Homo sapiens: one gene and its partners. The protein of the gene in region 1 purifies or fractionates together with the protein of each later gene. This does not show direct contact. Each region holds a gene or a part of one and is shown on either strand. Other genes may lie near its edges.

Region 1 (5,018 bases):
CACCTGATCCGGACACTAGGTGGTTAAGGCGGGGTACTCATGTTGGAGACAGCCTGAGACAACGCTGGGGTGTCTTCTGCCTGCATAACCGCAGGGCCACAGCAGCAGCTGTTGGGCGTGAAAGCCAGGAGCCTTTTAACGTAGTAAAGGAGCTCTCTGTCCCTGACCCAGCTCTCAGGCCTGCCGTACCCTGAGCACCCCTCACCCGGAGGAGTGCCAGAGCCCCTACCAGCGGCTGCTTCTAAGCCACTGTGCAGCCAGGAAGCAGCGCCGCAGCAGGCCCGAGTGCTCCACTGTCCCCACAGAAGGCATCCATTGAGACCGCGGGACCAGCCTTGGCTTTCACATTTCGCTGCAGCCTTGTCCCGCGCCGCACTGTTTCCTCCGGCCACTGTGGGGTCACTAAGCGACCTGCAGAACTCGCTGAGGCCCAGGCTCCTGCAGCTCCCGCCGAAGACTCAAAGCCAGAGTGGACATAAACGCCGTGGGCAGGACCCCGGTGAGGCCTCGGTGCCCTTCTTGGGGGTTCTCAGCGTTGGCCCAGAAGCCTCAGCCCGGGTCTAAGAACTTGGGACTCTCCTCGACTTTGGCGATCGGCCGGGTCATCCGGCTCAGGGCCTCAGCGGCAGCGGGCAAAACTCTAGTAGGAGTCTCTTGCCGAGGGCGTGTTTCGACGTCAGAGCCAAACTCGGGACAGACTAGCCAAGCGCGGACGGCGCGAGAGTGGCTGGCAGCGCCAGCACGCAGCCTGGGTTCAGAGCAAGGCTGGGCGCTCTCAGCAAAGGGCGGCCTGGGGCTGCGCGGGCGGCGGACTGCAGGCGGGAGAAGAGCGAGGTGCGCCAGGCTCTGGGGCGCGCAACTGCCCAGCCTCGTGAAAGATCGCGCCGCAGATGGGGCGCAGCTGCGCGCTCACTCGTGTGGACTGGAAACGCTCCGAGCCGGTTATTTTAAAAACCGGGAAATAAGGCGGGTTCCCTCTTCGCCCGCCACTTCCCACCAAGTAGGCTGTGCGGCCCTGGGGGCTGACTGTCCTCAAGCAGCCAGGCTCCACCGCGCGCCGCGCTGCGCCGAGGTCCGCTCTGCCGCAGGGACGCTGGCAGCCCGTTGAACACCGGCAAGAGCGCCAGAGGCTAGCGGCCGCCAGGATCTCTACCAGGCTCTGCTCGCACCCGCCTGCCTCCCTTTCGTTTGGCCTGTCCTCCGTTCAACTGAAATCGTTAATTTTCTTACCCCCTTGTTCTCATTTTGATATATTCTACGCTTTAAACATGCTCCGTTTTCTTTTGTTTAGTCTGCTCCCTCCCTCTTTGTCCTTTCCCCCTTCTCTAGTTATCCGTTTCGTTCGATCTTGCTCCTGCTTTTTTTATTCGTTCGTTCCTCATTTATTCATTTTAGTTCATCCCAGCTCGCCGACTGCCATTTACCCTCTCGTTCTCGCCGCGCTCTCCGTTGTTTTGTTCAATTTCCCTTCCCCTTTTCTTGGTTGTCGCTCGCTTTCTTTGGTTTTCTTTCTCGGTATTTCGTTGTCAAGGCCACCCTTGCCGTCGGATCCCGGGGTGCTGGGTTTCTCCCGGCCGCTCGTTCCGCACCAGCGCTCTCTGCAGTTCGCGCGGCACCGGTGTGGTCCGGGGGCCCGAGCTGTCGGTGCCGGATGCGGCGCGCCTAGCAGGGACGCGGGCCTGGGGGGGTGGCTCCTGCCCGACGCGGAGCGCTGAGCCAGGCCGGGTACCTGTCTCTGGCGGTGCTCACCGCACTGCGCGGCCTCTGCCGTCTGGCTGGGATCAGAGGAGCCAGGCCAACTGCTTCTCATTAAGTCCCAACTGTGGTTTTTATCAGGAAAGCCTCTTTCAAAGGGCACAGACACGAAGCTCCGCGGACTCGTTCATTTCCTCCGTTGACCCACACACACCTCCCCGCCCTCCCCTACACATTCCCACCGCCCCGGCTGGGCGAAAGCCGGAGATGCCCGGCCACTCCGTGGAGGCCCGCGAGGCGCCAGCCGGGCGGCGGCAGGGGGTTGAGGCGGATCTTGGAGGATCCAGTTCTGGGCCTAGGCTGCGGGATATGGCAGCGCAGATAAGGTGGGTGCAGTGCGGAAGCCGAGACGCCTTACAGGTCATAGGGTGCGGCGGACGGCCGCAGAGCTGCCGATCAGCCTGCCAGGCCCCTGCCTTCAGGCGCATTCTCGGATGCCGGCGCGGTCCAGCCGGCCTTAGCACAGGGCACCGGCCCGTGAGCCCGCGGCGCCAGGGGGTTAGGCTGCCCAGGGCTGCTCCTGACTGCCCAGCGGTGATGATCCAGCGCGGGGAAGCCAAGACTGCCAGAAGGGCGGCTATCATAGTGCATAACGGCAGGGAGGCCAGCTTAGTATGAGAAATAAGAATACAGTTATTCCGTCTTGAGGACAGCCCTGGCATTGCACGACCAGTCGCGGCCAGACTGTGCCAGTCTGCCGCACAGGCAGCACCCTTCCTGTGAAGGCTAGGCCCGGGGAGGAGAGACGGGCCAAGACCAGGCCGCAGTCCCCAGCCGACCCCGATTTGACCACTCTAGGTTGAGGCCCAGCCTCAGGGCCCTCAAAGGGCGCCAGACACAAAAGCCGCGCTTCTTCGTCAGGTCTCAGTGTGGCTCCACAGCCCTCGGCCGGGTCTGGGCTTCAGGGTAGGTGGCAGTTCCAGTCCAACTTCGGCAGAGCATGCTCTCTCCTTCCCAGGTCCAACTGCTTTCGGGCCCCGACTGGACTCCGGGCCGTCGCCACTGCACCTTCCCTCGACCTCCCGCCTTCCATTCCCGCCGCCGAGGAACGGTGGTTCACCCTCCCGCCCCACACTGGCCTTTGCCTGGCCCGGGCCAGCGCCAACCCGGCTTCCGTGGAAGCCGTGGCGAAAGGCGAGAGGGGCAAAAAGTTGAGAAATAGGCGAGCGGGAGAGATAAGCAGGAAGGCCCGGGTGGGCCCGGGTAAGGAAGAAGAAGAGAGGGTCGGGCTGCGCGCTACGCCCCGCGCCGCGCGTTACCTTCCGCGGGGCCCTCGTAGAAGTGGCCGCCGTTGAGGGCCGGGCCGGGCCCGAGGTCCTGCAGGTACTTGGCGGGCGGCTTGGCCGGCTCTGGGAGGTAGGGCTCCAGGGGCCCGCAGGCCGGAAAGCGGGTCAGCCGCGGGCCGCGGGGCGGCGCGGGGTGCAGGTGAGGCGCAGCGGCGGGGGTTCCCTGCGGGCCCGGAGGCTCGTCCCCCGAGGCCACATAGGGGCCGGGTGCAGGCCCCACGCGGAAAGGCGCGCAGTGCTCGGGGTCCATGCCGGCTCAGGGCGCACAGGCCTCCGGGGCTCCGGGGCTCGCGCTGCCCGCGCCGCCTGTGAGCGCCCGCCAAGGGGGAGGGACCTGGGCGCGGGGGCGCGGAGCCCCCGGGAGCGGCGCGCGCCGCGGGGGGCGGGGGGCGGGGGGCAGGGGAGGGGGCCGCGCCTCTGACTTAATGCTGGAACCATCCACGTCACGTGTGGCCCCGTGCGGGTTAACCCCTCGGAGCCCGGGAACCCCCTCCCCCCATTCACCCAGAGCCCAGTCCCAGGCAGCTCAGGAGAGGATGAAGCAGCTTCCTCTCTAGGGCAGGATCCCTTTGTCTACCCATCCAGGTGAGTCTCTTGCTCAGAGCAGCACCCGTGGTCCTGATATCCAGCCTAGAGGCACTTGCCCCTAGAGGGGTGAGGCCGTGTGGGCATCCCCCCCAAACACTTTTGGGCCTGGACTCTGGACATCAGCCTGGGATGAGGGCCTGGGCGGGCAGACAGGCAGGCCTTAGGCTGCAGTTTTACTTAGGTCTCCGCTAGGAGCTGGACAAAATGTTGCCTCAGCAAAAAACACCTCCCTTAGAGATCTCTTGTTTCTCACAGTGAAAGGAGCTATTGGGAGTGTTGTGTGGAAGCAGATCTAAGCTGGGAATGGGGTGCTGGGGAGCTTGGACCTGGACACTATCATTAATTAGCTATGGTTCCTTGCGCCAATCATTAGTGTCCTCATCTGACTGTGGAGGTCGGGCCAAGCCAACCCTGGGTCTTTCTATGTATTTGAGGTGTGTTTCAGAAGTAGAGACAGGGCCAGAGCAGACAGGGAGACTCCCATGGGCAGCTCAGGACTGAACAGTGTCCTGCAGGGGCAGCCTTTGGAACAGGTGGAGGATGAGCAGAAGGGCTGGTGTTTCCTCTGGCAGCAGCTTGGAGTGAATGCGTTTCAGTGGGCAGATGACCCAAGTGTCTGGGGACCCACTGGAGAGACTGTCTGCAGCTCGGACCTCAGGGCTGTGCTCCCCCAGGCCTGACGATTCAGAAGGGATGAGGGTAGAACTGCATCTTCTAAGAGCTGAGTCTCCCCAACCAAAAGGAGACAGGATTAGAGCAGTAGCTTAGAATTTCAGAAAAGAGAAATAACCACCACCCTACCTAAGATCTGGGGAGAAATACCCAAGGACCCGAGGACCCTGCTCACTTCCCATGGATTGAGGAGCCCGTGGGGCTGCGTTAAACTGTTTTTATTATCAATGCCCCCGGAGACTAGCAAGAGAGGTGGGGAGTCAAACATCATTTGTATTTCATTTGAATTCTCAATTTTTAAAGGAATCCAAGAGGCCTGGTGTGAACACCTCCCTCTTCCGCTGGGGGCTTAGAAGGGGTTTCTTGGCTCCTCAGCCAGAGTTGGGCTGTAAATCAAGACCAAACAGGAACCAGAAGCCTTGCATCTCACAAGGAGTCATTAAGCCGTTATTAAACATACCATAACTTCTCTGAAGACTTATTGGTTTCAACACCACCTTGGAGGCATTATGGCCATTAGGGCCCCTAATCACGGAATGCAGACTGGCCAGAGAGATGGGAGCACCTGGGGCTGGTATTTCTAGTCAAGAGGGAGGCTCGGCTTGAAATTAAGCTTCCCTTCTGGCCTCACCAGAGGGATCCTTTCTCCAGGATCTAGTGGATCCAGCTCTGGGCAACCAATTTGAACCGATCACCTTTGCCCATTAATAAGGTTTT
Region 2 (4,299 bases), on another chromosome or scaffold:
TAGTAGAGATGGGTTTCACCATGTTGGCCAGCCTGATCTCGAACTCCTGACCTCGTGATTCACCTGCCTCGGCCTCCCAAAGCGTTGGGATTACAGGCGTGAGCCACCGTGCGCAGCCCAGATTTTGCATTTTTGCATGTATATTTTTGAGGAAAGATGGGGCCTCTAGAGGTCACATATTTATAATCCACATATGCCTCCTGGCTGTAGGTAAGTTTTATTTGGCCCAAACAAACTAAAAGTTGTTTCAGAATTATTTTCTAATATTTAAAAGTTGAGGGATTTCACATAAAGATCTGGGTGTCTGACTCTCTTGAAAAACTTAAGTATCTGGTAACAGTGGGCATGCATTTTCCTAACTAGAATTGAATAGTGGCTTCCCTTTTAGGTGGGAAATGTGCTTTCCATTTTGCTGTCATCCAGTTTTGCCCCTTAAGTTACAATATAGTGGTGTAGTGTGGAGCTTTAGATGCAGACTCCTGAGATTGAATTCTGCTCCCTCATTTACTTGCGCAAGCAATTTAACTTCTCTGAGCCTCCATTTCCTCATCTATCAAATAGGAGTGATATGGTTCTGGTAGGGATTGAGATATTATATAGCACATAAAACATTGCTGGCATACAGTAAAAATAAACATTGTTATCATCATCATTATCACCATCATCACCACCACCTTCACTACTGCCTATCTGACCCCAGTAGATATATATTCTGTATGTATATATATATATATGTATTCTGATCCCAGGACGTTTATTCTGTAAACTTATGTTGAGTGTCTAGTCAAGTGGATTTTCTCAAATGGGGTTCCATTAACTTATTTCCCATGCAGCCAGAATGGTACTAGTTTTGTACCACCTTTCAGAAAATTGAGAATATAGTCACTCAAACCATTTTCTGTGTTCTGTGGTTCAGATAAGGAACCTGATTAAGTGTCGAGTAGTGTACTCAGCACCAGGGTAAAGATGGCAGACACAGTCCCATGGAACTGGCTGGCTGTCCATGGAAGGTAAGTAAGTACCAACAGCAGAGTGGTGAGTTTTATCACGGGAGGACACGGTAGCAAAGAGGATCTAACATGGCCTAGTAGTCATGGAATTCCTTCCTTAGAAGATCTGTTTAAAGGTGTATCCTTATGAGAGGCCTGGGATTCCTTACGGGGTTTTTCAGAAACATTAAAACTGTTTCATTAGTCATGGAATAAAAAGCTATGGATGTTGAAATCCAAGTTAGCTTCAAAGACTCTTATGCTGGCTTAGGTTAGATAATCTTTTAAACTATTAAAAATAGAACTAGTTTATTATGGAAATGGTTATATACCTAAGAACATTTAATAATTTTGTTTGAGTAATGTACATTTTTATCAATGAAGGAAAATATCCAGAATATGTAACCTACCGTTTTAAGTAACATGATTTAAAAACTCTTCTGCTTTTGGTGATAGTTGTCTTATCAACTTTAAATGATAAGGTTTATTGAGTTATAAAAATAATAACTTGGCCAAATGCAGTGGCTTATACCTGTAATCCCAATGCTTTGTGAGGCCAAGGTGGAGGAGGCTCACTTGAGACCAGGAGTTGGAGGTTACAGTGAGCTGTGATTATGCCACTGCACTCCAGGCTGGGCAACAGAGTGAGACCCTGTCTCTAAATAATAATAACAATAACTCAACAAAAGAAAGTTTGTTATTTATGTTTTTACTGACTGGGTATTTTTACCTTATTTTATATTTCAAATTTGGCATTTTATTGAGGTCCTGAGAAGGTTCTTTTGGAGTCTACTTTTATTATGGGCCATTCTAGATTATGTCACCAGTTTATCTAAAGTGGACACTAAATATAGGACAGTTTTGGTGTTAGGCCAAAGACCAGGGGACTTGAAAAATGAAAACCTCACCTGACAGATTCTACTCTGTTTTTTTTCCTTCTTCCCGAAATCCATTATTATTTTTTGCTTAATCTCTCCTTCAATATATGGGTAAGCCTTTAATCACTGTTTCGGAGGTTTAGTTGACTTCTGTAAATAGAAGAAGAGTTAGTGTATTTGATCATAGTTTCCAAACCACTTTTAATACTGTACCTTACTTGAAAATTAACCAGCTAAACTATCGAGTAACAGTGAGTTCTTGTTGCTTTCTGTTATTTCCAGGCTGTTTCCTAACCCTCCTAGTACTGGTTTTGAAAACTAAATTAGCCATTCAAAAAAACTCTTAGACACTTTGAGCAAACAGTAGCTTCCTTGAAGATAGCATTTGTGTCTAATTCATCTTTTCATCTCTCCATTGTACCTGGCAGGATGTCTTCCACAAAGGAGACATTAATAAGTATCTGGTGAAGAAAGATTAAATGGTTGAGAGAGTCCAGCATCTGTTATGTGATATATGTGACCCTTCATAATTATGATTCTGGATCCTTGGCTGCTAATGAGATTTACTGTGGCTGAGTTTAGTGATACAGATTTTGGCATGTAGATGATAGTCTCCAAAAAAGTAGAGATCATGTTTTTTTTTTTTTTTCCGTTTTGTCATTCACCATTTTATCCCTAGCCCTTAAGATTTTGCCAGACACATGGTAGATATTCCATACTTGTCAAACAATGAATGAATGAATTCCCAAGAGCATCACTTGTTATTGGTCAGTAGACTTTCTAATAGTGAGAGATGGAACCGGAATTTGAAAGAAGTAATGGAAAATGGTTAAGTACCTTATGAATTTTAAATTAATATACCATAGGTGTGGGCATTAATTTTGAGAAACAAGACTCTTCTGTTCAACACATACTTTAGCAACTGTCAACACTTGTTTTCAAGTGTTCTCTTCCAATTTTAAAATGCCAGTTTACCTTTCAGATTTAGAGTATTTTGTTGTTGTTAGTTTATTATGGCAGTTTTCTTGCTAAAGTTATATTTAAAGTGTGACTTTCTAACTTCTAGAGGAGAGGAACTTTTGTTAAGGTGGTACTTTTGGAACCTTAATGAAAAACACACCTTAGAGAAGGTGAATTTAGAGTTCTGCTAAGCACATTCATTTACTCTTCTATTATAAACTGGTTTTGTAATATTTTATAAAATTGTCTCACTGGTTGATTTCACAATGTAAACTGGGAGGATTCTTAGGATTCCTTGGGTTGGATTAGAACAGGTTCAAGAGATGAAGATTTGTGTTGGTAGGGGCTTGTTTCCAAACGTTTGTCCTTGGCATGCTCTTTGTTAAGCCATCACATGTTTGAAAGTTAAACCTTGAATTGGTGCCATGGTTTGCATTTAAAAAAATGTATTTTATTATGGTAAGAACACAACATAAGATCTACTCTCTTACCACATTTTTAAGTGTACAATAAAGTATTGTAAACTGTAGGTACAATGTTGTATAGCAGATCTCTGGCACTGATTCATCTTGTATAATTGAAACTTTATGCCGCTTGATTAGCTCTTTCCCATCCTCCCAGCCCTGGTCATCATCTTTCTACTCTCTGATTCTATGAGTTTGACTATTAGACGTACATTTTTGTTTTTGCTATAAGCATCTGTCCTGTTGCTATGCTGATCATTTATTTACTCTGTAGTTTTGGAAATGACCTGCTTACAAGATAACCATGCCTCCCCTTATGTTAAAAAACTGCCATATGGATAAAGGGCAGTTAAGACCTTTACAACTGGTAGAAACCAAGTAGAAAATTCAGTTTGAAGGACCAAATTATGTTGCAGCTGCTCTGAGGAGGAGATTTGTTGCCAGAGCATGAGTGTTTTCATAATTGTTTGTGATCAGAAAATTCAGAGCTCTGATTTCTGCATTAGCCCTAAGTCTGCCCTTTGGCACCTTCATTTAGTGATTGGATCATTCAAGGCTGAGCCTCAAGGGCCAGCATTTCTCCAGTAATAATATAAAATGGGCTGATGTTGCAACCTTAACTCACTCTGCTGAATTGGGCATGATTAAAGTCTCAAGGCTGCATTAATATGGATTTTCTATTTCTATGTACAGCCGTCCATTATCTCACTATTTTCCAGTTTGCCATTTTTTGAAAACAAAGATGGAAAATTCTGCTGATGAAATTTTTTTTTTGTCTGTCAGCACAACAGCATTTTTTGGGCTTAAGAATATGAGAATAGCACCGGGCAAATGAATGCAAACATTACAGTTTATGTGGACTCTAGCCTGTTGTCATGTCAATCTTGTTATTTAGGTAAATAGTGTGCAATTTTTCACCAAATCAGCAGCCAATATGCTGCGAGCCATTTTTGTTTTAGTTACATTATTGGCTGGTAACACTATTAATGAGACAATAATTGGGAAATA
Region 3 (4,108 bases), on another chromosome or scaffold:
GTTTTCAAGAGAGCATGGATGAGGTGTTGCTGGGGCAGGGGTGGGGAGGGAGGAGGGGGTCTCCTTTACTGGCTCCTTTTGGAGACTACAGATGGAGGCAGGAGCTAGAAAGGAGAAGGGGACATTGTGCTCAGCACCTTCCTCTATAATCTCCTAGCCAAGTTTGGGGCCAATGCCATCCTGGGTGTGTCTCTGGCCGTGTGTAAGGCAGGGGCAGCTGAGCGGGAACTGCCCCTGTATCGCCACATTGCTCAGCTGGCCGGGAACTCAGACCTCATCCTGCCTGTGCCGGTGAGCAATAAGCCAGCCTGCGGCTCTCCCAGGGGCGGGTGGGGGAGGGAGCATGCAACTCATGAGGAATGATGGGAGGAAAGTGAATTGAGGGAGGTAAAGAGGAAGGATGGGGACGTGAGACTTAGTCCGGAAAGCTGGGGGAAGTTTGGGATCTTGGGTTAACACTCCTGGGGCGGGCAGGGAGGGGCTCTTTGACCCTTCTGTCTTTCTGTGGCTCCCCAGGCCTTCAACGTGATCAATGGTGGCTCTCATGCTGGCAACAAGCTGGCCATGCAGGAGTTCATGATCCTCCCAGTGGGAGCTGAGAGCTTTCGGGATGCCATGCGACTAGGTGCAGAGGTCTACCATACACTCAAGGGAGTCATCAAGGACAAATACGGCAAGGATGCCACCAATGTGGGGGATGAAGGTGGCTTTGCCCCCAATATCCTGGAGAACAGTGAAGGTGAGGCCAGGAGCCCCACTCCCAGCTCTAAGTCTTACCCTATTGTGGGACATCAGAAAGGGTGACACAGTTCACCAAGTCCTGAGTAGGCGTGGAGGGTCCTAGGACTCTGCAAACTCCAAAAGGTACCAGTTCTTAGAGTGGATTGCAGAGAGCCTGCCAAATTCACATGCAGACCTAGGGGGACAGTATTTTTTTTTTTTTTTGAGACGGAGTCTTGCTCTGTCACCCAGGCTGGAGTGCAGTGGCTCGATCTCAGCTCACTGCAAGCTCCGCCTCCCGGGTTCACGCCATTCTCCTGCCTCAGCCTCCCGAGTAGCTGGGACTACAGGCGCCCGCCACCACGCCCGGCTAATTTTTTGTATTTTTTAGTAGAGACAGGGTTTCACTGTGGTCTCGAACTCCTGACCTTGTGATCGGCCCGCCTCGGCCTCCCAAAGTGCTGGGATTACAAGCGTGAGCCACCACGCCTGGCCAGGGGACAGTCTTTTACCTGCCTAGCCAGATGTGTTAGCATCTGTTAAGTTGCCACTGGAAGGCCGGGCGCGGTGGCTCACACCTGTAATCCCAGCACTTTGGGAGGCTGAGGCGGGTGGATCACCTGAGGTCAGGAGTTTGAGACCAGCCTGGCCAACAAGGTGAAACCCCGTCTCTACTAAAAATACAAAAATTAGCCGGGCATGGTGGCGTGTGCCTGTAATCACAGATACTAGCGGGGCTGAGGCAGGAGGATCGCTTGTACCCGGGAGGCGGAGGTTGTGGTGAGCCGAGATCATGCCACTGCACTCCAGCCTGGGCAACAGAGCGAGACTCCGTCTCAAAAAAAAAAAAAAAAAAAAAAGTTGTCACTGGAGCCCTTGGGAATACTGGGAGATGGTCTGGATGACTGTTGGATTCATCCCATCCATTCGAAATCTGTCCTGTCCCCGTCCCAACCTCCTAGGCCTCTAGAATCCCTAATTTTTCTGTGCCTTGGGGGAAACTGTATAGGGAATGGAAAGAATATAGGTAGTGGTTAAGAGTTAAGGTTCTGGGGCCAAATAACCTGGATTTATTTGAACCTTGACTTGTGGAGTTACTGCTGGTGAACTTTCTTACTTCTCTCTGGAAATAATAACAGAATCTAGCTCATGGTAGTGTGAGGCTTAAATGAAATATATATAAAATGCTTAGATGACATGATACCAATGAAAGTATAGTAAGTATTATTAAGAGAATTCCATTCCTCTGTGTTCCTAGAAGATGGCCTCTCCTCCCAGACCTGGGGATAACCCCAACAGCATCCCCGCCACACTTCCCTCAGGAACAGCCCTCCACCTCTGCCCTGAATGTCTTTTCTTTCCCTCCTCCTCCTTGCCCATCCCTCCTGCTTGTACTATAATCTCACTGTATTCTGTCCCCAGCCTTGGAGCTGGTGAAGGAAGCCATCGACAAGGCTGGCTACACGGAAAAGATCGTTATTGGCATGGATGTTGCTGCCTCAGAGTTTTATCGTGATGGCAAATATGACTTGGACTTCAAGTCTCCCACTGATCCTTCCCGATACATCACTGGGGACCAGCTGGGGGCACTCTACCAGGACTTTGTCAGGGACTATCCTGGTGAGAGGAAGTGGTGTGAGGGGGAGGTCTGGGGGCAGGCAGGGACGTGTCCCAGCAACTCTGGACCTTATGGGGTGCTGACTCAGGCACCAGGTGGGGGTGTCCTAAGAAGAACCTGAGAACCAGGGAGAGGGTGCAGGAGCCACCTGCAAAGACTGGGCTTTGTATGTAGTGTAAAAATGCAGGTACCCGTGACCAATCTGTTCTGTCTCAGATCCTGATTAAAGTCATGGGTTCTGAAAACTACTGGGGTCATGGGGAAGGCTCTGGAAGGAACCAGGGATGATATGAGTGTGACTGGATCTAGCAGAGAACTAGAACATTTCAGTATCTTTGATTGATGAAATTGTGGATGCTGAATGGAGCTGGGACTGATGTGTGAGTAGAAAGAAGGCTGAGGGGGACTGAATTAGCTTCTGCAAGTCTGCCCAGGGCCTTTATCTCAGGATGGAGGCAGTTGGTCGCCATCTTCCTGACACAGAGCGAAAGAAAATCAACATAATTGCAGAATTAAGGATTTGGATTAGCAATGAGGAAGGGCTTGCTGGCAGTGAGAACAGGAAAATGCAAAGCTAGGTTGTGAACCCTTGTTACTGGAAGATTTTTTTTGGGGGGGGGGTGGGGTTGTTTTTTTTGTTTTGTTTTTTTTTTTTGAGACAGAGTTTGACTCTTCTTGCCCAGGCTGGAGTGCAATGGCGCCATCTCGGCTCACCACAACCTCCACCTCCCGGATTCAAGCGATTCTTCTGCCTCAGCCTCCCGAATAGCTGGGATTACAGGCATGTGCCACCATGCCTGGCTAATTTTGTATTTTTAGTAGAGACAGGGGTTTCTCCATGTTGGTCAGGCTGGTCTCCAACTCCTGACCTCAGGTAATCTATCCACCTTGGTCTCCCAAAGTGCTGGGATTACAGGCGTGAGCCACCACGCCTGGCTGGTTTGCTTTTAATTAACTTTTTTTTTTTTTTTTTTTTTTTGTAGAGACAGGGTTTAGCCATGTTGCTCATGGCTGGTCTCAAACTACTGGGCTCAAGTGATCTGCATGCCTCGGCCTCCCAAAGTGCTGGGATTACAGGCATGAGCCACTGTGCCCAGCCTATGGAAGTGGCGTGAGATCTCTGCTCACTGCACGATTCTCTTAGCCTCCCAAGTAGCTGGGATTACAGGCGTGCACCACCATGCCTGGCTAATTTTTGTATTTTTAGTAGAGATGGGGTTTTACTATGTTAGCCAGGGAACTCCTATCCTCAAGTGATCCGTTCACCTCAGTATCCCAAAGTGCTGGGATTACAGGCATGAGCCACTGTGCCTGGCCTCTCCATGTAAGGTTTTATGAAATAAGAATCAGGAGCCAGGCGTGGTGGCTCATGCCTGTAATCCCATTACTTTGGGAAGCCGAGGCAGGAGGACTGCTTGAATCCAGGAGTTCGAGACTGGCCTGGCAATACAGTGAGACCTCATCTCTACAAAAATTTTAAAAATTAGCTGAGTGTGGTGCCACACACCTAAAGTCCCTGCTACTCAGGAGGCTGAGGTGGCAGGATCACTTGATTGGGGAGGTGGAGGTTGCAGTGAGCTGAGATTGTGCCACTGCACTCCAGCCTGGATGACAGAATGAGGCTCTGTCAAAAAAAAAAAAAAAGTTAAGAATCAGTTAGGGCAGGCTTACACTGGGGGGATTTGTCTTAGCAAGGATGAGCAGGTGTAGTTAACCAAGGGCCTGTCCATTTCAGGGAATAAAGGGGCATGTTCCTGCCTGATGTAGAGA
Region 4 (4,894 bases), on another chromosome or scaffold:
CTAGGGTTTTCAATTTTGATCAGTTTAGAAGAAGAAAAAGATCAGGCACCACAGTGGATCAGATGTTCATGTACCACTGTCCTAATGAATTCTGGAGTGCAATAAACCTATGATCAGGCAAGAACTTCCATGGCATTAAATAAAATCTTTCCTAATTTGCTTCTATATGATGTTAACATTTTTTTCTACACTGTATTATAAAATATTTTATATTAAATTAACTCTGTTGCGTCTGTTGCTTTTACTTTATCCTAAGCAGTAGGTAAGTATTGTGAAACTTATATTTCACATATGCACATATGTGTTATGTATATATGGGTGTATATTCTAGGTTACAGTGTAAAATGTCTTACTGTGGGTTATGGATCAAAAAGTTGGAAAACTCAGTGGGTGAGAAGTTAGAAGATAATGTTGGATAAGTAACACACCTGTAGAAGGATTTGGCCCACAGACCACCAGTTTGCAGTCTCTGAGCTAAATTGTGGAGGATATTGAATATGAGTATACATACATAGAACTCAGTTTGTAGGTAAGTTGCAGCCAGAACAGAGAACGATATAATAAAAACTCTTTTAGAGACATTAATATGACCCCGTCTCAAGACTGGTGGGAACAGAGACTGAAGGCAGAAAGGTCATTTAAGTATCACTAAGGCAATCTAAAAATGAGACCCGAATTCAGAATCAGAAAAGGAGCAATAGGGAAGGAGATAATGTAGGTAAAACATGGCGCCGAGTAGAAAAGATAGGGTTTTAGAGCTGGGAGAGACCTTTGGAATCATAGATTTCATCACCATCTTCGTCCAAGTAGGGAAAGTAATAACAGGAGAGGAAAAAACGGAACCCTCTCAGAATTTGTCAATGACGTCACACTGACTTAATAAAAGAGCTTTCAATAGTTAATGCAATTAACAGAAGGCTTGGATTCCCTTCAGGATGTGAAGGGCGAGCCCTCAAATTTACTTTTTATTCAATGGATTAAAATGGCCAGTAATTCTTATCCTTTTAAACCCGACTTCCAATTAATTAATTACAAGTGAGCCTATGGGGCGTGCCCAATCAATTCCTTCCCCATCCTGAAATGGGTCCTTTAGCATTCTCATAAACAGTACGTTTCCTGAAATACCACTAAACCCTCTTAAGAAGTTTTCTATGATTTCAGCAGTTTAGGCCTTCTGAATGAGCCCAGAACTCCTCATCTGCTTGTTAATTTTCCAACTGCAAAGCGTTATTGAACATTTAATGACCCTGCCCCACGCAACGCCCACTGCGGCCGGGCGAGGGAAACCGGAGTAGGTCGAGGAAGGGGAGGCCTGCGCTTTCGGGAGGGAAGCCGCTGGGGCTAGTCTGGCTGAAGCTGGGCACTTCCTTTTTTCCCTCGATACTTAAGGCTACGGGGACACAGGGCGGGCAGGCACAACGGCTGGCGCGTCTCTCTACCCTTGCCCAGAGTCCGCCTTGAATAATCAGCTAACAACCCCAATTCCCTTGAACCCAGCACGGGAGACCCGGCGCCAATGGCTAGGTCGGTCTCAGTCCCATCCCGATGCTAGCCCCGGGAAGCTCCTGGAGCGCCTCTGGTTTCCGGGTGCGAATAGTAAACTGCTCGGGAAACCCCAGAACCCTCCCTTTGAGGAAGGGTGCAGACGGCGTCTCCGTTTCCACGGAAACAGGCCGAGCCATGTCGTCACTTCCGCCGACCTGTCTGGACTCCAGACTGTTGGGAGGAAAAGAGGAAAACTGAGCAACAGCCACGACAGTGGACGCGAGCGTCTCCTCTGTGCGCATGCGCCCGCTCAGCGGCCTGCTTCTATTTATGTGGGGGATCCAACATGGCGGCCGCGGCGACCCTGGCGATGGCGGTGAAGCCCATCAGAACGTAGTAGCGGGGAAGGGGACACGGTCCGCACTCACCGTGGCGCCGGCGGAGACGGCTGAGGGTGGTGGAGGGAAGAAAAGCGACAGAGAGCAAGAGGAAGGGCGGGCAGGCACGCAGCGCGCCGTAGAAGCGAGCGCCGGCTCGAGCAAAAGCGGAGGGCCAGAACAGTGGGGATGGCGGAGCCGCGCAGAGTAGCGTTCATTAGCTTGTCACCGGTGCGGCGGCGCGAGGCCGAGTACCCGGGGCCCGAGCGTGAGCCCGAGTACCCCCGCGAGCCCCCCCGGCTGGAGCCGCAGCCGTACCGCGAGCCGGCCCGGGCGGAGCCGCCGGCCCCGCGGGAGCCTGCCCCCCGCTCGGACGCGCAGCCCCCGTCGCGGGAGAAGCCGCTCCCCCAGCGCGAGGTCAGCCGCGCCGAGCCGCCCATGTCGCTGCAGCGGGAGCCCCCGCGGCCCGAGCCGCCGCCGCCGTTCCCGCCGCTGCCCTTGCAGCCGCCCCCGCCGCGGGAGTCGGCTTCCCGGGCTGAGCAGCCGCCGCGGCCGCCGAGGGAGACGGTGCGCCTGGAGCTGGTGCTTAAGGACCCCACCGACGAGAGCTGCGTGGAGTTCAGTTACCCGGAGCTGCTGCTGTGCGGAGAACAACGGGTACAGAAGATTCTTCCCTCCTGCCCCAGACCCCGGGAGCCTCAGGACCCGCCGCCTTCCCCAGCTGGTTTGCACCTTGGGACGCCCACCGAGCGCGTCCGGGTCGCCCCGAGGGTGGGGTGCGGGGGGCCGGGGCCGAGCGGGTGGACGGGGCGGTGAGCGCTGCTTTCTCCACTCCCCAGGGTGGCCGAGGCTCTCACCCGGCTGCGCCGAATCCCCAAACCCCCGGCACTCGCTCCCAACGCCGCGCCGAGCTCGTTTTCTTGTGCACCTTTCGGAACCTCAGATTTTCCTTCTTTCCTTTCTGCTCCCCACACAAAATCCTGGGGCCCTGCAGGCCGTGTGGCTGGGTTCTCCCTGTGGCGCTACAGCTGTCGTTCCAGTAGAAAGGAAGAGAAAACCTTGGGGGACACGCCCCCCAGTCTGAAGCAGAGATTGTGTAACCCCTCTCGTATCATCCTCATCCTCATCACTGTTTGTTTTGCTGGGCGCCGTGGCTGCTGAGGTGTGCTTGCGTGCCTGTGATATTTTTCTTAATCGAAGGGAATTTAAGAATAATTAAAGGTTTTCAGAGACTAAGGATCCCACTTTAGGAATGGAGAAGTGGGTTAGTTAATCTGGTTACTAATTTTTCTCTCGTGTTGGTATTGGAAAACCTTTTTAGCTTTCCTTTTTTGTGGAGTTCGTTCATATTGTAATTGAATGGGAAGGTGTCTCCTGTTTTATTTGACACCTACCCGTCATATTATTTAAGTGTACTATCATTAGTTTATAGAAGGATATTGTATTCAGCCTTTGTAATTTTCGGAGGATGATGAAAAAAATGTCAGCTTTGAATTTTTTAAAATAATTGAAAATATATAGGTATGCTTTTGATGTAAGAGGTGAACAATGGAGAAAGGATAGGGGTTATGTTCGTAATTGTAATTTTTATTGTTGTGGGTTGGTGGATCTTCAGAAGTAAGTTAGAAAAGGAAATGATAGATTAACAGTAAGGAAAGAGAACAGTTTTCTCTGTTGCTTAGCAATTATACCCGTTATTAGGTTTTGCTTTAGCTTGAGTCTAATGGACTCCAGAAGTCCCTTGTTTTGTTTTCATCTTCAACTACCTTTATGGTCAAAATGACTGACTGCTTAGTCACAAAGTATCATGTTGAACAATTTCACTAGGTTTTGTTTACTTCATGGCCAGCTAATGTTTTGATCATTATTTAGAAATGTTATGTGGTCAAATCATTACAAAATGTTTTCAACCAAAATGAATTGTTTAAAGGTAGAGATCATTTTGGTCACTTCCACCTAACATTTTGCTCGTCAGACTCACTTGAATGCCCCTTCTTTATAAATCTGAGGTCACTTTTTTCCCAAAAGAATATTAAAAATATTGGATTGGAGCATTTTTCAAACATTGTATTTGAGCTGCTAATCTAAGTTGGTTTGCAGTTTTTGTAATTTTCATAAATTACAGGAGAAAAGCATTATCTTTGGATAAAAATACATAGCAATAACGACATTTACTGGTTCTTACTGTGTGCTAGACACAGTTCTAAGCACTGCACATGGTTTTTCTAGTAGTCCAACAGAACTCCACGAGGTAAAAACTATTATCCTCACTTTACAAATGTATGTAATTTTATTAGTACTTCTTTCCATAGTGATACAATTTGTTAGTAAAACAAAATTTCTTAAAATTAACTCATATAGTTTAGAGGATTCTGCCAAAATGACGTAAAATGTAAGTCGCAGTAGAAATACAAAGACCTTTATTATGTCTCTGTTTATGCTGTAATATTCACACGATGGCAAATTAATAATGTGTATCATTTAATTATAAAAAGAAAAAGGTTTGACACCCTAGCTTTGTTAACTTGATAACACCAGAACTACTACTTTCATGCAATAGGAGAAAGAGGAAAAATTCCATTTAATTTTTCTGTATACTTATTAACAGTATAGGTGTCTATTGGCCCAATTATCTCGTATATCAACCTTCTATTTTTTTCATATACCTCTGAACAAAACAAAATCCATTGTATATAATCACCTTTGCAACAAAGATTTGCCACATTTTCCTGTGATTGCTGCCAGTGTATATCCTTATTATGCAAGAAAGCATAGAAAACATATGTTTAAGTAAAATTGTCATGGTTTCATGAAAGGAAATCCTAGAAGAGAGACCATCAAAAAGCAAAATGCGAACATTAGAATTGGTCTGGAAAGTTGGTGGTTCCCAAAATTAGAAGAATTAGAAAAGGAAGGGCTCCACATTTTTGAAATAGCCATCTATCACTAAATAAGATTTTAGCTCCAGATGCTGAAATTGGTAGATGTGGGGCTATTAAAAAAAAACAAACAACAAAAGGTGTGTTACATAT
Region 5 (4,299 bases), on another chromosome or scaffold:
TAATCCCAGCATTTTAGGAGGCCAAGGCGAGAGGATCGCTTGAGCCCAGGGAGTTTGACCTGCAGTGAACTATGATTGTGTCACTGTAGACCTCTTCCTCTTCAGCTGCCTCAAAAAACGAACAAACAAACAAAATAGCCAGATCTCCTCTCTACAGAATTTTTTTTTTTAATTAGCCAGTGGTGGTAATGTACCTGTGGTCCTAGCTACTTGAGAGGCTGAGGTGGGAGAATCACTTGAGCCCAGGAGTTCAAGGCTGCAGTAAGCTATGATCAGGCTACTGTACTCCAGCCTGGGTAACAGAATGAGACCTTGTCGAAAAACAAACTACAACCCTATGAAGTATTGGCTGGGTGCTCTGGCTCACACCTATAATCCCAACAGTTTGGGAGGCCAAGGCAGGAGGATCACTTGAGCCCAGGAGTTCAAGACAAGACTGGGCAACATAGGAAGACCCCCATCTCTATAAAAAATTAGCCAGGCATTATGGCACACGCCTGTGTTCCCAGCTACTCAGGAGGCTGAGGGGGTAGGATGGATTGGGCCTGGGAGGCTACAGTGAGCCATGATCACACCACTGCACTCCAGCCTGGGAAATAGAGTGAGATCTTGTCTTTAAAAAATAAGATTAAAATAAGGTATTATCCCCACTTCACAGATGAGGAAACATCAAAGTTATTTAACTTGCCCAAAGTGGTTATACAGCTTAGTAAATGGCAGAGCTAAGGCAGTCCAGTCACCCACCTAATCAGTATGATTCGTTGCCTCCATTCGATATTAATCCCCAACAAAAGGCCAAGATCCTAGAAATAGAAATCCCCAAGTCCAGAATTACTTATAGTTCTTTTCTTCCTTCTACTTGAAGGTATACCCTTTAGCAGACCCTAATTGCTTGTTTTTCACTCTCATCTAAATGGGAAGACTGGGAACTGCTCTCACTAGAATATGCCCCTGACTCATAAAAAGGAAATAAAGGACCTTATACCCTAACATGGATGCCAGTTTGAAAGCTTAGTTTTTCAGATCTGAAGCAGCTTTCTCAGCATATTTTCTTGACTTCTAGAAAATCAGTCATCTAGGCTGGGTGCGGTGGCTCACGCCTGTAATCACTTGAACCTGGGAGGTGGAGGTTGCAGTTAGCCAAGATCATGCCACTGCACTCCAGCCTAGGCAGCAGAGCGAGACCCTGTCTCAAAAAAAGGAAAGAAAGAAAAAAGCCGGGCGCGGTGGCTCACGCCTGTAATCCCAGCACTTTGGGAGGCTGAGGCAGGCGGAACATGAGGTCAAGAGATCGAGACCATTCTGGCCAACATGGTGAAACCCCATCTCTACTAAAAATACAAAAATTAGCTGGGTGTGTTGGCACACGCCTGTAGTCCCAGCTACTCGGGAGGCTGAGGCAAGAGAATCACTTGAACTCGGGAGGCAGAGGTTGCAGTAAGCCAAAATCGTGCCACTGCACTCCAGCCTGGTGACAGAGTGAGACTCCATCTCAAAAAAAACAAAAAGAAAGAAAAATCAATCATCTTCTTTAATGTTAAATGAATTAATATTTATCAAGTACTTAGAATAGTGTCTGGCACAAATAAGGGAAAAATAAAATATATTTTAACGCAGCACAGCACATATCACTTCATTTTTTTCATCACTAGTGCTGAGTCAGCTTTGTACTTTTTTCTTATATGCACCGTTCACATGTAGCAAGGATGAATTTTTTTTTATTTTAGTAAGAGGCTAATCAAAAAAAACTACTAATTATCAGAGATGATATTTCCACTAACATGACACAGGTTGTGTTTAAAGCTTGAATTTGAAAAGAAGTTCTGAGAAAGTTCATTAATGTATTTTTTGTAATGAATCAACCTTCATACGAAAGTCTCTTATAATAATGATTTCATTCTGAATAAACTCGCTAATCTATAGTATAGATCTATGGTGGAGTATTGGATAATAAAACTAGTCCCTGAAATGAACTGTGTTTCTTCTTTTACTTTTTTTTTTTCCCCCCTGGCAGGGAGGGACAGGAAGGCGTGAGGAGGGCAACTCTTATTTCTTTAGGGTGGTCTCTTTCTTAATAAGGTCTCTATCTGCTGGTCTTAGATATCCAATACTCTGGGGGAAAAAAAAAAAATCCTAAAAGCCAGAAATGAAACAGCCAATGAAAAAAGAATTATGTTCACCCTTCCATCTCAGAGAATTAGGATAATAGTGTTTTCTAATAACCAGAAGCTTTAAAGGTTCCTATTAATTTAAACACAGGAGAAAAGTCAATCTGTGCTAATAATGTAACCTGGGATCCCGTATAATAGAAATTAGCCAGCATCATCAAAAGAAATGTATTTCCTCCAGTATTGTAAACATTTGTCTAATTTAGCTTTGGACAGTTTTGTAGCTACGGTTAGCCTAATGATGCCATTTATGAATTCAAAGCATTACCACTTTTGCAAGGATGCACAAAGTTCAGATAACTGCATTTACTCAGAAAAGTCTTTCACCTCTCCATTAATCCTTGGGATCTTTAAATGATTGCCTTTCAGTGGAAATGAATTTCACAAAACATGGTCAGTCAGTATGGTTCTAAGTTTGGCTGTGCACTTAGATTACCTGAGAAGCTGTTGAGTTTCCAACATCCAAGCCACATCCCAAGCCAATTAAATCAGAATCTTTGTGAGACCCAGGCATCAGATTTGTTAAAGCTGCCAGGTTATTACAATATGTAGCAAAGCTTTTGAACCACTTGTCTCAGGACTGTGTTTAGGCAGGTACTTATGGTTCTGCTCCATTGCGTTTTGATGACTCAATATGCAAAGAATTTCAAGTGTTTTTTTCTGAGCCTAAAGAATTGAGTTAAAGTAGACAAAATGGTATTGGATCCAAGACAATTCTTTTATGCTTGCTCATTTCAAATCCTGTATAAACAGATGTTGATTTGTTGTTTTGAAGATTGAGATAGCTTTTTGGGCTTCCACCCATAATGAAGAATAAACTCCAATTTTAGAGTGACATCTCAAGTACACCTATACGAGTCACATCACTGAGTATAACCAATTGTGCAGTTTATACACTCTGCACTGATTGTGATCTATTGTCACTTTGGCAATGGCTTTTTTCTATTTTCATACCTCTTTTCACACCTCCTGCTATTTTGCAACTTCTAATTACTATCACTTCTCTCTTCTACTCCACTGCTTTTTATCAGTCAACTCTTCTACATTTCAGTTTTAAAATACTTTTTATAGACGACTCTTGTTTCGCCTACATTTCAGCATAAAAACACCTATTTTCTAGATATTACCCAATCATGGCCTTGTGAAAAACAGTAGAGATCAAAGATCTTGTTCTAAATTTTTCACTTTGTCCTCCTCTAAAATATTTCTTGTGCATGCATCTATTACAGATATCACACCATCTTATTTGGTGGGCTGTGAATTGTGAACAAGGGCAGTGCTTTACTCATCTTTGCATGAGTTAAACCAGTACCTACCACATGAAAATCTGTCAAAAGAAACTGATAAAAGCTGCATCTAGGCTGGACATGTTGACCCACACTTGTAATCCCAGCGCTTTGGGAGGCTGAGGGGAGGATCACTTGAGGCCAGGAATTCAAGACCACCTTGGGGCTGGGCACAGTGGCTCATGCCTGTAATCCTAGCACTTTGGGAGGCCAAGGCGGGCAGATCACTGGTCAGGAGTTCAAAACCAGCCTAGCCAACATGGTGAAACCCCATCTCTACTAAAAATATTAAAAAATTGGTGGGGCGTGGTGGCAGGTGCCTTTAATCCCAGCTACTTGGGAGGCTGAGGAGGAGAATCGCTTGAACCCAGGAGGCAAAGGTTGCAGTGAACCGAGATCGTGCCATTGCACTCCAGCCTGGGCAACAAGAGCAAAACTCCATCTAAAAAAAAAAAAAAATACCGGGCGTGGTGGCTCACGCCTGTAATCCCAGCACTTTGGGAGGCCAAGGCAGGTGGATCACAAGGTCAGGAGATCGAGAGCATCCTGGCTAACACAGTGAAACCCCGTCTTTACTAAAAATACAAAAAATTAGCCAGGCGTGGTGGCAGGCGCCTGTAGTCGTAGCTACTCGGGAGGCTGAGGCAGGAGAATAGCGTGAACCCAGGAGGCGGAGCTTGCAGTGAGCCTAGATCGCGCCACTGCACTCCAGCCTGGGCGACAGAGTGAGACTCCATCTCAAAAAAAAAAAAAAAAAGGCTAAAGACCACCTTTGGCAACATAGCGAGATGGACAGTCCTAGCTATTTGGGAGGTTGAAGTAAGAGGATCACTTGAGCCCAGGAG
Region 6 (4,299 bases), on another chromosome or scaffold:
AGCAGTTTATTAATTTCCATTGTTAAAGGAGGCCGGGCGCAGTGGCTCGCGCCTGTAATCCCAGCACTTTGGGAGGCCGAGGCGGGCGGATCACGAGGTCGGGAGTTCGAGACCATCCTGGCTAACACGGTGAAACCCCGTCTCTACTAAAAATACAAAAAGAAATTAGCCGGGCGTGGAGGCGGGCGCCTGTAGTCCCAGCTACTCGGGAGGCTGAGGCAGGAGAATGGCGTGAACCCGGGAGGCGGAGCTTGCAGTGAGCCGAGATGTCGCCACCACACTCCAGCCTGGGCGACAGAGTGAGACTCCGTCTCAAAAAAAAAAAAAAAAAAATGGCCAGGAAGGAATCCCTGATTAACCAAGCTGACTAACCATGGGAGAATACTTGCAAGCAATTGCTGCCCTCATCTAATTATTATTATTATTTTTTTTTTTTGAGGCGGAGTCTTGCTCTGTCGCCCAGGCTGGAGTGCGGTGGCGCCATCTCGGCTCACTGCAAGCTCCGCCTCCCGGGTTCACGCCATTCTCCTGCCTCAGCCTCCCGAGTAGCTGGGACTACAGGCGCCTGCCACCACGCCCGCCTAATTTCTTTTTGTATTTTTAGTAGAGACGGGGTTTCACCGTGTTAGCCAGGATGGTCTCGATCTCCTGACCTCGTGATACGCCCACCTCGGCCTCCCAAAGTGCTGGGATTACAGGCTTGAACCACCATGCCCAGCCTCATCTAATTAAATTTTAAGCCTCTGTGGCACTTATCACTTATACGGGCAATAGATGACTGGTAAGGAGCTGACCAGGCTTTCAGATATGGGACAATCCCAAGGAGGAACAATTGTGATTCTAATTCCTTAGCACACGGGACCTAAAATCTAGCTAGATGAACAATCTCTCAGGTTTTCTTCCTAAGGAGTGAGACATAAAGATGGTGACCTGTAAGTTTTGATGGTTTAAGCACAAAAAAGTGTTCAGTTGTTAAAGAGAGGGGGGAAAAGCTTCATCTTTTGAGGAAATAACCATTAGAACAATTTCATAACAGCTATTTCAAGAAGATATGAAATCAATCTTCTATTTGAAATAATTTGCAGATAAAATATACATATTCTACAAATAGGTAAAAATAATTTAAATATGAAATTCAGGAAAGCATTTTTATTCTAAACTAATAAGATCTATATGATGCACTTGTCTGGGTTTTCAATTTCATTTTAAGGCATGCATTATAGAAAGAGATAGCAGTTGATAAAACAGAGTAAGAGTGAGGAAATTCCTAGAGTTTACTTTGTTTTCCCCTAGGAACCACTAATCAAATAGATTATGGTCAAGATAAAGGAAGTTCCAAGAGGACTCTAGGACCAAAATAGAATTGTCTAATGTAATTGTGTCTTTATTTTTCCCCTTCCTTTTAATCCTAATCAAATAGATTATGGTCAAGATACAAGAAGTTTCAAGAGAGGACTCTAGGACCAAAACAGAATTGCCTAATGTAATTGTGTATTTATTTTTCGCCTTCCTTTTAATCCTAAGAAGAAAAACAAAGGTCAAATGGAACAAAGCAACAACACAGAAACAAAACAAGCAGGGGCAAGCTTGTTTTGAGTAGAAAAATGAATAAATAAACAGCATTTTTTTTTCCTTTTTTTAAATGGTTGGGAAAAGTGGGAGAAAAAAAAAAAAAACCAGACACTGTCAAACCATTCCTGATTATAAAGGACACAGATAAGAAAGAAAAGTATCCCTCATGTTTGTTTAAATTCCAGAATTGTGCATGAAACAGGTACAATATGTCAAGGGTATTTTGAAGTATAGTTTTAAGTAATAAGAACTAAAGAAGAAAAAGTGGGGTGGGAAAGGGGGTGAAAGTTTGCAACATTAGCCAGAACTTGTAAGTAGAAAATAGTGAGAAGTCAGGCAGTCAACAGTCCTGAAACGTTCTCTTCCAACTGACCAGCCAGGAAGCCAAACAACTAAAGTGAGAAAACCTCCTGCCACCATGCAGAAATCTTCCTCAACAACATTTCATATGCATGGAACCAAGTTATTATTCATTCAACAAACATACACTGAACCACCCCCTGTTTTAGGTATTTGGAGGGAAGATGGTTGTGAATCACCCAACTCAGACCTACTGAGCCTGTATCTGTAATTTTGAATCACATTTTAAAGCCCCTGATGATTAATAATAATTATCCATTTAGTAATCATCCAAATCTGGGAACCTCTGCTTTAGGAGATACAAGAATCACTAAGACAGTTCTTGATTTCAGGAAGCTCACCTAAGTAATAACGAAATTATCACTTTTTCCAAAACAAGGTTAAAAATGAAAAATGACAGAAGAGGAACAAAATTGTTACTGTGGGAATTCAGAAAATGGAGAAATGGTATACTTTTGGGAGTTGTAGATGGAGTGAAGGAAGAACTCACAGAAATAGGTGCATTTATATGTTAGGATAGTTATGATTTGAACATGTAGAAGAGGAAGAGGAAAGGTCTACTATTTTAACTAATAAAAAGAATAAATGTATCTCCAATGGTTACTGAGAATCAGGCCCTATGCTGGGTGCTTTACATCACTCATCTCTTAAACTTAACTTAAAATAGGAACGTAGGCCCCATTATTTCCCCATTTTGCAGATGGGAGAACTAAAGCTGAAAAATCTTATGGAATTTGCTGACAGTCACACAGATAGAGACTGGGAAAACTAAAAATTAATCCCATATCTATCCATTCTAAAGCCTCTACACCTCCCAAGAAAGACTAAACAAGGCCAAGAGATGCAGAAGTGTCAGGCATAAGACAAAGCACTCATTGTTACCTTTGGCTGGAAGGCGGCAGAGTTGGGGAAGATAGGACTGGGAAGGTTGAGAGGGAGCCAGGCTGTGGATGCTATGGTAACCTATTTGAGCTTTATATGGTAGCAAGAGGAAGTCCACTGAAGGTTTCTGAGCAGAGAATGCAATGATAAAAGCTATATATTACGTCTTAGGCTATGAATCATGGGTTATCTCTAACAATCTTAAATGATAAAAATCAAAAGTTTGAAGAGTCTCACACTGCCTTTAAACAAAAAGTATGGCTAGGAGCCACGTGAAACTACTGCCTCATAGCTGTCTAGGCAAATTCCCAACATGCCAGGCCTTGAAAAAATTCAACAGAGCAAGGCTCATGAAAGATGTAGTGAGTATCTGTTACCCTGCAAGACAAGGATATACTCATCCCTGGAGCTGTCCAAATCTGGCATAAGGATAGCCCTGGGGTATGCAGCATTCTCTGGGACCTGATGTGAACCTACAGGCCAGTGGGCACAGGAAAGCTATCGGAATCAGTTATTGGAAGAATCCAGACTCCTGACTCCCAGCCCTGTGCTCATTTCAACAGATCATTTGGTATGCCACTAAATATGTGACACTGAGCAAACCTCTTTACCTTTCTATTAAACATTTAGAAACATCCCTTTCCTCATCTGTGAACCAAGAAATTGAACTCATTGGGTCTCAGATTTCATGATTTTTCATCCTTCTTCCCCTCCAACACACCAGCACAAATAATCTGCTTTCATCGGAGGCCCACTCAGCAGGATTTGGGGGAGCAGTAACATCTCCTGAGAGCTTCTATAGTTGGAAAATCTCTTAGCTGAGAATAATTGTACTTTCTTAGCTTTATGAAGCATTCCAGTCCTCCCTCACTGAATTTGATCTAGTCCAGGATTATCCTTTTAAGTGCAAACTGGATCACTGATGTCAAAAGCAATTAAACAATACAGGGCACCATGACCATATCCAGTCACATGGCAGGGAGTTCCTCATCCTAACATCAGGGAATCAATGCCCTAGAATCCAGACCTGTCAGAGCTCCAGGATGTTCTTTTATTATTTGAGAGGTTTTTTTTTTTTTTTTCAGTCTCAAAAGATGGTGTGTGTGCGTATTCATAAGTGAAATTCCAAGGAAGCCAAGCAAAGGCTAAAACTGGGGCTTTCTTGGGGGCTGGGGGAGGGGGGTGAAGGGGAGAGAAAAACCATGATGCAGTTTTAGAGGTTCACAAACTCCAACTTTCAAAAACGAATTTCCAAAAGGATAAAATATTTTCTTCTTAAGAGATTATCAATTATGTAGATCCAAGAAACTGCCAGAGAAGAGAAGTAGGGAGAAGACGCAAGACTTGTTCTGCTCTCAGAAATATTGCTGGTAGAACTGAAATGAACACACGAAGCCACGGATCTTTGAAAGAACTTCTTAAACTTCATTAATTCATCAGACAACACCCAGTAATTCACTTACAGAGTGTGACTTGTTCCTGTAA
Region 7 (4,299 bases), on another chromosome or scaffold:
CCATAAATTTTGGTTTTCGAGGCCGGGCGCAGTAGCTCACGCCTGTCATCCCAGCACTTTGGGAGGCCGAGGCAGGCAGATCACAAGGTCAGGAATTCGAGACCAGCCTAGCCAACATGCTGAAACCCCGTCTCTATTAAAAATACAAAAACTGCTGGGCGCAGTGGCTTACACCTGTAATCCCAGCACTTTGGGAGGCCAAGGCAGGCAGATCACGAGGTCAGGAGTTCGAGACCAGCCTGGCCAACCTAGTGAAACCCCGTCTCTACTAAAAATACCAAAAATTAGCCAAGCGTGGTGGTAGGCACCTGTAATCCTAGCTACTCAGGAGGCTGAGGCAGGAAAATCGCTTGAACCCAGGAGGCAGAGGTTGCAAGTAGCTGAGATCATGCCACTGCACACCAGCCCGGGTGACACTGTGAGGCTCCGTCTCAAAAATAAAATACAAAAATTAGCCAGGCATGGTGGCACACACCTGTAATCCTAGCTACTCAGGAGGCTGAGGCAGGAGAATCGCTTGAACCCGGGAGACGGAGGTTGCAGTGAGCTGAGATCGCGCCACTGCACTCCAGCCTGGGCGACAGAGCAAGACTCTAACTCAGAAAAAAATTTTTTTAAAAATTTGGTTTTGAAGGACTTCTTTCAATTATTTGCTGGGATTTTGAGTCAGTTTTCCCACCAAGAAGCTGCAGCATAGACAATGCAGACAATGCAAGAACCAAAGATTAGGACTAAAATAAAAAACACTTACAGAAATACAATATAGTAGAAAGAGCCCTTTTCTCCACAGCAACTCATCCCTTCCCTTAATCCTCAAAAGAAAGAAAAGTTTGAAGAAGCTATAAACAAGCATAAAAGACTCAAACTAGGACTGATGAGAGAGGATGCCCCATTCAGAGTAAGGAATTATGAGTAACAAATTAACACAACTGGGCAACGATCACCAACAGCTACTAACATCACAGGGAACCAAATATTATGCACCTACTGATCCAAGTACCATCTATAAAGTATTCCCCTCATCCCCTGCAAAAGAAGCAAGAGAAAGAATATATATTATAGAAACAATCTGATCAAGCTTCTAAATCTAATACCAATTAACTAGAAACCCAGGGGTCAGAGAAAAACGTTTACCACCACCACCACAGAAATCCAAAGGAATGTAACTGCTAAATCCACACTGGGAAAACTTCTTTTGTAACTAATAATCTGCTAGGGAAAAGAAATGGAGGGGGAACCTACAGATTACAAAACAATGCAGAGACCTTATTTGGCTCTTGATCTGACACATTTATGAGATAAGAGGGAAATCTGAACACTGACTATCATATTACATTAAGGAACTCTTCCTTTTTTTTTTTAGTGTGGTAAGTTTTTCGGTTTTCTTTCCTTCAACAGTGAAGCTGACTGGGAAACTGGAGTGCTAAAAAGTTAGAGTACAGAAAGGGAACTCTAATATTAATACAGCTGAATGGATCTGTCCATAATGCACTGAATTTGGCCTACCCGGAACTTAAATATAAATTGTGAGATTGCAACCACCAGAGATCAGCTTTGCTTGCTTGCCAGCCAACTTTTTCTCCACTGATATAAACTCTATAAATAGGTCAAAGGTGATAATGGCTGCTCAAATCACTTCATATTGCAGATATTACTACTTCTGGCATGTACCTGGACCTGCACCAGGGCTGTGAATAAACTAGCATCAAGTAAGAAGCCAAAGAAGTTATCAAATGCAAAAAAAAAAAAAAAAAAAAAGCACTGTGGCTAATGACTCTCTAAAGTACTCAAAAGCATCATCAGTGTAAATCAAGAATAATTTAAAACAGAGGTTCTTTTAATTTTTAAAAATAATTTTTTAATAGAGACAGGGTTTCACTTTGTTGCCCCGGCTGGTCTAAAACTCCTGGGCTCAAGCTACCCTCCCAACTCTGCCTCCCAAGGTGCTGAGATTACAGGTGTGAGCTACCATGCCTGGCCCTAAAACAAAGGTTCTAAATTTTCTCCAAGATTTCTGCCCTGGTCATTTTCTATCTCCTTCAGAAGACAATTCACATAAAGATGGATAACCACATGCCAGGAACTGAGGTCCCAAGATAAAAGCTGCCAAAATTCTCTCCACTATACACACCTTCAGGCTCACTGCAAAGTGCTTAGTTGATTTCAGCAGAGAAAAATAGTAAGAAACCCTTGACACTAAACTGTTGATTTAAGAACAAGCTATGATTCTATGCTAGGTTAAAACTAAGGCAGACAGGATACTGCTTAAAATTTTAACCACATGAAGTTTTTGTTCTTAATACAGAAAGAAAAACAATCCTGTTTTCCTTAAATTTTAGTCCACACCCAACTTCCCTATCCCCGACAATACCTTTCTCTAATTATAAGGCACCTAACAAAATGCAGACTCCAGACATTATTGTAAAGGTCATTTTTTTAAACTAGTCAACTCAGTAAAAAAATAACTTCTACTGGTCACTTTGGTCAGTATCTTGTTTCTCTAATGCTAATTATGCTAATAAAAACTTAATTTCAGCCAGGCACAGTGGCTCACATCTGTAATCCCAGCACTATGAGAGGCTGAAATGGGAGGATCACTTGGGCCCAGGAGTTGGAGACCAGCCTGGCCAACATAGTAAGACCCCATCTCAATCAATCAATCAATCAATCAAAATAAACTTAATTTCTAGACTACCCAAGCACAATTCTAGTTTTTTGTTTTTTTTTGAGACGGAGTCTCGCTCTGTCGCCCAGGCTGGAGTGCAGTGGCGCGATCTTGGCTCACTGCAAGCTCCTCCTCCTGGGTTCATGCCATTCTCCTGCCTCAAACCTCCCGAGTAGCTGGGACTACAGGTGCCCGCCACCACGTCTGGCTAATTTTTTGTATTTTTAGTAGAGACGGGGTTTCACCACGTTAGCCAGGATGGTCTCGATCTCCTGACCTCATGATCCGCCGCCTCAGCCTCCCAAAGTGCTGGGATTACAGGCATAAGCCACCATGCCTGGCACAATTCTAGGTTATATACATTCTTAGGAATGGCTGCTCTAAGTTTTAACAGATTTAATGTTGTTTCTCTCTGAACAACAATCAGAACTTAATACATGAACTTGAATTACAAGCAAATGTATTTTGTAAATGAACTGGCATTACAAAAAAACGACATTTCCCCCCCCACCTCCCGAGAGGGAGTCTTGCTCTGTTGCCCAGAGCTGGAGTGCAATGGCATGATCCCTGCTCACTGCAACTTTCACCTCCCAGATTCAAGCAATTCTCCTGCCTCAGCCTCCCAAGTAGCTGGGATTACAGGCGTGCACCACCACACCCATCTGATTTTTGTATTTTTAGTAGAGACACGGTTTCATCATGTTGGCTAGGCTGGTTTCGAACTCCTGATCTTGTGATCCACCTGCCTCGGCTTCCCAAAGTGCTGGGATTACAGGCGTGAGTTACCATGCCCAGCCCAAAAAACGACATTTAAGTTTCCAGCCTTTTAAAGCTTAGAGATACCAAGAAAAATGCTATTTTCTAATACCTTATTTAAAATGAATTTATAAGGGAAAACACTAGTTCCATACTACAGTTGTTTTGTTATGCAGTACTTTTTTCCCTTATAATCTACTTTCTCTTCTCCACATTTTAGAGCAGGAAGGAAACTCAGAAATCATCTGGTTCACTAGGTTGAGTTCTGTGGGCAGAGACTGCTTGCTTGTTTTGTTTTTATTGTTGTTTTTTTTTTTGAGACAGAGTTTCCCTCTTGTTGCCCAGGCTGGAGTGCAATGGCACAATCTTGGCTCACCACAGCTGCCTCCCAGGTTCAAGAGATTCTCCTGCCTCAGCCTCCTGGGTAGCTGGGATTACAGGCATGCGCCACCATGCCCAACTAATTTTGTATTTTTAGTAGAGACAGTGTTTCTCCAAGTTGGTCAGGCTGGTCTCAAACTCCGAACTTCAGGTGATCCGCCCGCCTCGGCCTCCCAAAGTGCTGGGATTACAGGCGTGAGCCACCGTGCCCTGCCCCAAACTGCTTATTTTATGTGCCCATTACCACCTGGCATGTAAATGCTCAGTAAATGGGTTTTTAATTTAACCAGGTATAAATACCACATATGCATTAAGTCCCTGCTGATAGATTTCCACTTTAGATTAATTGTCACTTAACTAGAAAATACTCATTTAGGTAGGTTTTAAAATTATTTAAAGTCAAGTTAATAATTTAGGAATTTACACCATCTACCTATTAAGTGGCAGAGTCTGAGCAAAGAGGAATGAGGTCCCTTATTTTGAACAGACATGAAAGA

What was found.
Region 2: the proteins of ALX3 (region 1) and FTO purify together in Homo sapiens (affinity purification with mass spectrometry; 2 studies listed by BioGRID and IntAct, with this or other methods). This does not show direct contact.
Region 3: the proteins of ALX3 (region 1) and ENO2 purify together in Homo sapiens (affinity purification with mass spectrometry; one large-scale study listed by BioGRID and IntAct). This does not show direct contact.
Region 4: the proteins of ALX3 (region 1) and UBN2 purify together in Homo sapiens (affinity purification with mass spectrometry; 2 studies listed by BioGRID and IntAct, with this or other methods). This does not show direct contact.
Region 5: the proteins of ALX3 (region 1) and IKBIP purify together in Homo sapiens (affinity purification with mass spectrometry; 2 studies listed by BioGRID and IntAct, with this or other methods). This does not show direct contact.
Region 6: the proteins of ALX3 (region 1) and P3H2 purify together in Homo sapiens (affinity purification with mass spectrometry; 2 studies listed by BioGRID and IntAct, with this or other methods). This does not show direct contact.
Region 7: the proteins of ALX3 (region 1) and ARK2N purify together in Homo sapiens (affinity purification with mass spectrometry; 2 studies listed by BioGRID and IntAct, with this or other methods). This does not show direct contact.

What each region holds. Positions count from the first base shown.
Region 1 is NC_000001.11:110,067,322-110,072,339, forward strand, and holds the start of ALX3 (homeobox protein aristaless-like 3), read right to left. Parts: upstream 3,352-5,018; 5' UTR 3,292-3,351; coding exon 3,015-3,291; intron 1-3,014. UniProt on the Homo sapiens protein: Transcriptional regulator with a possible role in patterning of mesoderm during development.
Region 2 is NC_000016.10:53,710,445-53,714,743, forward strand, and holds part of FTO (alpha-ketoglutarate-dependent dioxygenase FTO), read left to right. Parts: intron 1-4,299.
Region 3 is NC_000012.12:6,917,424-6,921,531, forward strand, and holds part of ENO2 (gamma-enolase), read left to right. Parts: intron 1-157; coding exon 158-291; intron 292-516; coding exon 517-739; intron 740-2,142; coding exon 2,143-2,340; intron 2,341-4,108. UniProt on the Homo sapiens protein: Has neurotrophic and neuroprotective properties on a broad spectrum of central nervous system (CNS) neurons. Binds, in a calcium-dependent manner, to cultured neocortical neurons and promotes cell survival.
Region 4 is NC_000007.14:139,229,434-139,234,327, forward strand, and holds the start of UBN2 (ubinuclein-2), read left to right. Parts: upstream 1-1,803; 5' UTR 1,804-2,051; coding exon 2,052-2,519; intron 2,520-2,987; exon of another isoform or gene 2,988-3,024; intron 3,025-4,894.
Region 5 is NC_000012.12:98,634,623-98,638,921, reverse strand, and holds part of IKBIP (inhibitor of nuclear factor kappa-B kinase-interacting protein), read left to right. Parts: intron 1-4,299. UniProt on the Homo sapiens protein: Target of p53/TP53 with pro-apoptotic function.
Region 6 is NC_000003.12:190,113,766-190,118,064, forward strand, and holds part of P3H2 (prolyl 3-hydroxylase 2 isoform a precursor), read right to left. Parts: intron 1-4,299. UniProt on the Homo sapiens protein: Prolyl 3-hydroxylase that catalyzes the post-translational formation of 3-hydroxyproline on collagens. Contributes to proline 3-hydroxylation of collagen COL4A1 and COL1A1 in tendons, the eye sclera and in the eye lens capsule.
Region 7 is NC_000018.10:46,180,143-46,184,441, reverse strand, and holds part of ARK2N (protein ARK2N), read right to left. Parts: intron 1-4,299. UniProt on the Homo sapiens protein: AMPK substrate important for exercise capacity and skeletal muscle function.